Regions from separate parts of the Homo sapiens genome. Here region 2 is linked to region 1. The links come from fine-mapping of genetic effects on gene expression. Tissue or cell type: pancreas. Region 1 holds a variant in brackets; the other region holds the start of a gene. All regions are shown on one strand. Distances are from middle to middle.

Region 1 (2,760 bases):
CAGCACGTACCCCCTGGTGTTGTTAATGGTAACAAGAGTTGTATTGGAAATGACACTTATTTTTGGAAGACACAGGGACAACTGAGTCACCCATAGTATTTTAGGGGAAAGAATGAAACAAGAAACCCCAAATGAACAGGTGAAGATTTACTAGGCAGATTTCTGTCTTGTACTGAACGTTTTTTGGGTCAAGATTATATGCATGTGCATGAGCTCAGATGGAACTGTCCTGACCTGTGGAGGGGCTGAATTTAGCAGTGAGCTCAGGCTCAGGTCACTTAGAGTCATCCAGCAGAAAATGGCTGGTGTATCTTGGGGCTTTGTATGCTTAAGAGCTGTCCGGCAAGCACGCAGCATTCCTAGAGCACGCTGGGCTCGCCTGTCTCCCATTGATTCAACTCACAGACAGGCTTGTGCTCAGTCAAAACATGTCAGTCATTGAAAGTATATTCTCACTGGTTAGTGTCCTTTTAGAAACCAAACTCAGCTTTCTTCAGGGAAACAATTTGTGCTGATGGGTACACCTCTTTCTCTTCATCCTGTGCACAGTAAGATGCTGCTATGAGGGGGTGTCTGTTCATGTCAGCCCTGCTTGTGAGAATGGTGGAGAGGGAAGGAGGTGGATGGGTGCAGCTGCTCAACCCTGAGTGCACAGCTTCATCCACAATGTGTTTAGCACCAAGCTTACATGGTTTGGAAGAAAGATGACAGGCTTGGGAGATAGACACGTGAGATTCTCAATCCGATTTCAATCAAATATTATGTATAATACCTTACATGTCTGGATAAGTTATTTAACTTCCCAGAGCCTCAGCTCCCTCATCTCTAAAATGGGCACAAAGCAGACTTCCTGTCAGATTTCTTGTGAGCATAAAGATAAGGAACGCATGTGAGGAACAGCCTGGTGTACAGCAGGTGTTCGCTATTTCTTTCCCTCGGGTCAGTTTCCAGTTTCCAGGTGTGTTGCTACCAATCGGCACAGGCAAGCGTTCACAAACGTTTCCTCTAAAGAAACAGAGAGTAAATGCTCTAGGTTTTGTGAGCTAGGAGGCAAAATTAAGGATATTATGTACGTTCTTTCTTACATAATAAAGAGAAAACACATTTCCACCAATTGTTACTGATTTAGGAATATAATAATACAAATAGAGCACAGTTTTTTTTCTAACATAGATCTACTAATGAAAAGAAAAGAACCCTTTTCTGGGGAGATAGCGTTTTACTTAACTGAGGTTCAAAGTTAGAGTTCCCTCTTATCAAGGGGATTGCCAGTGTTCATCTGTACAAACCATTCTTAATTTGCAGGCCATGCAGGAGCAGGCCGTGAGCTGAATTTTGTCCACAGGCCACAGTTTGGAAATCTCTGCTATGGACAGCTTATTAATAGCACCAATCTCTGCTTGTATTCTAACTGTAATCATTAATGGTGAGTAAATAATCTGAAATC[A/G]TAAGTGATGAATGAACTGTTAGAGAGCTACCATCTGCAGAGGGGGATGAAATAATTAATTAAATAAACAGGCACTGGAAGCTGACAGGATACTTAGTCTTATTTGATCAAATAATTGTGTGTGGCTTTTTTTTTTTTTTTTTTTTTTTTGAGACAGGGTCTCTCTCTGTTGCCCAGGCTGGAGTGCAATGACGTGATCTCAGCTCACTGCAACCTCTGCTTCCTGGGTTCAAGCGATTCTCCTGCCTCGGCCTCCTGAGTATCTGGCATTACAGGCGCGCGCCACCATGCCCAGCTAATTTTCGTATTTTTAGTAGAGACCAGGTTTCACCATATTAGTTAGGCTGGCCTCGAACTCCCCACCTCAGGTGATCTGCCCGCCTCGGCCTCCCAAAGTGCTGGGATTACAGGCATAAGCCACTGCACCCGGCCGTGATCAGATAATTCTTTAAATAATATCTTTCTTTGTGGCTAAAATCTGGAAAACAGCAGGAAGAAATGATCAGGCCACACAAACCAACCACCTACTATGAGAGATCAGGCAGTGGATGATTGTGAAAAGTTACTCAAATAGGTTATTTCTGCATCGAATCAAGTAAGAAAAGGACTTGCTTGTCTTTAGTGATGATGCAGCTAAAGGAGGGATGAAGATCTGGCATGTAAGTATCAGAGGGTCCCTTCCTTCCGCCCTTCCACCCACCTGGATGGACAGGTCAGATGGATCTAGTTATATGACCCTTACACACTCAGATGAAAACAAGACCAAAAGACTATTATGGGGTATATTCTTCACCCAAAGGGATTACATTTTAGCAGAATGCTAATATAGAGTGGGAATTATCCTATGGCATAGAAGGCACCAGAGTGGGTGTTAAGGGGAAGCAACGTGACAAGACATCTTTGATAACCGAGTTGGCAAAAGAGGAATGTCCGTATTTCTGAATATTTAAGAGATAGATATGGAAAAGGGTCAAAACACATAGAGCAAGAAGGGACTAAGGTATATGAGAAAAGATCCAAGCAGGCAAGCTGGCTCTTTCCCATTTGTGTGGCAGAAAGCGGGGACCCCACCGCCACCCATCATTTGAAATTCACTGAAAGCCTGTGGACATTTGCAGAAGCTGCCGAGCCAATGGTGCTGAAGCTGCTTAGGGCAAAGATTTTAAAATTTCAGAGTGTTGAACTGGGAAAGTGCTTACAACTCCTTGTAACTAACCCCTCCTTGGAAAACTAGCTGTTTTGAGGCAGAAATATTTTACAATGTATTGTTTTAACTGAAGGGCAATTTTTAGCCAAAGAACGTTTAGCAAATG
Region 2 (2,612 bases), 49 kb before region 1:
CAAGGCTTGAAACGTTCCATTGTATGCGTCTGTAGGATACACATTTTGACATATTTTTAAAAGGATGTTGGTTCCCAAATCTCATAGGCATATATAAATAAAACAGAATTTAAAAGGTATTACCTTGTTCAAAATCTGTATGAGCAGATCAATCAGATTATAACACATACAATTATAAAATATGGCATGAGAAGAATACAAGAAAATAAAGTATAATACTCTGCAACTAAAAGTATAATATTCTGGAAGTTTACGCCTTTAGGTATTAAATGTTTTATATGTGATAACTGAAATAATACATTAATTTTCTATGAAGAAAAACATTGTGTTAGAAAAAAACCAGCTAGACCAAATAATGCTTTAGAATTAATTCTACAAATTTACTGACAGGAGAGAAACCCTGAGGTTTTATTTTTACCTTGTTTTCTCATTAGACAGTAGAGAACACCAAGTAAAGCTTGACTTTGACATTAAAGCATTATTTTCCGTTTTAGGCTGAGTGGTTTACTTTGCATCAGGTAAACTAAACTGTCTGCCACGTTTTCTTTGTAGCTAGAGTTAGAAGTTGGTAATTCCTAAGCCAAGTTCTCAGCTTTGGAAAACGTGCTCAAAATGCCTGGAAACTGAGGAGTGAGCATTAGGAAGACTTCCCCTGTCTGGGCTGATAGGAGCGGCTCCAGTTTGGCCAACGCAGGTCGTGCCCCGCGAACAGCGCGCTGCTGAACTTTTCATCCGGACGAGAAAAACGCTCAGATGCGCGCCAGCTCCAGGGAATGCCGGGGGGTGCCAGTCCCTCGCCTCTCCCACCCGGGACCCATCATTTGTTACGGAAGGGCGATGGGGTGTGTTTTATTTCTGTTATCACATATAAAACATTTAAAACCTAAAGGGGAGGAGGCACTCGAGCCTGGCAGCCTCGCCTTCCCTGAGCCCAGTGGCTCTCCTCGGAAAGTCGCTGCGGACCCAGAGGATGGGACACCTTTAGAGCGGACTTTGTCAAATCTCTGAGCCGCTCCGCAGCCACTTGACGGAGTTGCCGCCGCCCCCGGAGCTGGGCGCCGAAGCCCGGGAGCCAGCAGCGCCCCGTCCGCCCGCCCTCGCGCGCTTTCTGGCCGCCCTCGGCCCCGGGGCATCCACTGCGTCCCCCCGGACGCCGCCGGAGTCCCCACCTCGCAGCAAAAGCAAGAATGCCGACACCTACCCTGGTGATGACCAAAGGCTGGTTGAAGTCTATGCCCCCTGAGAGCCTGAAGCCCCAGGGCGCAGGGCCCGGGAGGATCACCGTCTGGGGCATGCCGCCTTCCTCCCGCCCACCGGGCTCTAAGTGTCCCCGCGCAGGGCAGCCACTCCGCGCCGGGCGGCGTCCTGGCCCCGACCCGGGCGGGGGCGCTTTATCCCCGCTGGGGGTGACGTCACCGCCCCGCCGTCCTCCCCGCCCCCTCCCACCCCGGAGAGCTCCAACTTTGGAAGCGAGAGCCGCGCCAGCCCCGCGGGAGTGCGCAGCCCGGCCGGCTGGGGCAGCCTCCCGGGCCGCGGCGGGCGCGGGGGCTTCGGGTTACAGCGTCCGTCGCTCTCTTGAAGTCACACCTGTCTCCCTGTTTATCTTCTGCTTGGAGCGCAGCAGTGCACTTTGTTGGAAGCGAAAGCAGCCAGACCACAGCCTCCATGCTTTCAATTAAAACGAGCATCATCGATACAATAAGTTATTTAGCAGTTTCGAGTGCGTTAATATTTACTTACGACCTCTGCGGCTTTGGCCAAATTACTTAATGTCCTTTTAAATTTTTATTTTATTTATTTATTTTTCTTAGAGACCGGGTCTCCACTTTGTTGCCCAGGCTAGTCTTGAACTCCTGGGCTCAAACAATCTTCCCACCTCAGCCTCCCAAAGTGCAGGAGAGTCTGGCCGGGGTCCTGTGGTAGTCTCAGTGTGGACTCAAGTATTTCTGGTGTTACGCGTTGGGATGTTGTGATTCCCAAAGGGAGAGGGGAGAATGAGGGAAGAGAAATAAGAAATGCTTTAAACACTCAAGAATAAGGGTCTTGGACTTAATGCCCCATATGATAGGGTCGTATTGGTCCAGGAGGACAGAGCTGCAGCAGACTTTTAAGAGGGCAGTCTGTTTGGAAGCAGTTTTAAGACTGATGGAGGAAAGAGAAAGGAGATGCAGAAAGCAGTAAGCAGTAAGCAGTAAGCAAAGCGAACCAGCCTGGGCAAATGTAAATCACAAAGGTAGGATGGGCATTACTTTGTCCGCTGTGGTGGATTACATAAAAGTCCCAGGGGATAAGCACTTTCTAGCTCCACACATTTCCCAGTGCCCCATCTATGCTGGACCATCGAGGAGCTGAACATTGTGTGTCCTGCTGACTGCCTGTTTGGGCTGTGGCTGTATCACTGCAGAGCACATTTCTTCAGTCAGCTGCTGGCTCTGTCTGCGTGGTGCAGACATACACGTGCACACACACAGAGGTCCATTCAGAAAAAAAAAATCAGACAAGTCATTTGGTGTTGTGTAATTATAGTAATTGTTTTTACCTTACTTCACGAGCTGGCTTATATAAACAGCTGATTTTTTCTTTGCCTTTTTGCTGGTCATTTTGGCATCATT

Which allele goes with the higher level. Positions count from the first base shown, and alleles are read on the strand shown. Sizes are in standard deviations (SD) of each study's normalised expression.
As copies of A replace G in region 1, the expression in pancreas of the gene that starts at base 1,367 in region 2 goes up (small effect, 0.39 SD a copy in GTEx).

Evidence for each region. PIP is the estimated chance that this variant, and not a neighbour inherited with it, causes the effect.
Region 2: it holds the start of PDLIM3, and the variant in region 1 is fine-mapped to the expression of PDLIM3 in pancreas (GTEx, PIP above 0.99).

What each region holds. Positions count from the first base shown.
Region 1 is chr4:185,582,592-185,585,351 of GRCh38, forward strand. No RefSeq gene overlaps it. Among named protein-coding and RNA genes, the nearest start is that of SORBS2-AS1, 4.0 kb to the right of the region's middle. The variant A/G (reference allele first, on the strand shown) is at 1,448.
Region 2 is chr4:185,534,141-185,536,752 of GRCh38, forward strand. PDLIM3 (PDZ and LIM domain 3) reads right to left here and starts at 1,367. Exons shown (of 8, transcript NM_014476.6): 1 at 1,202-1,367. The coding sequence starts at 1,294.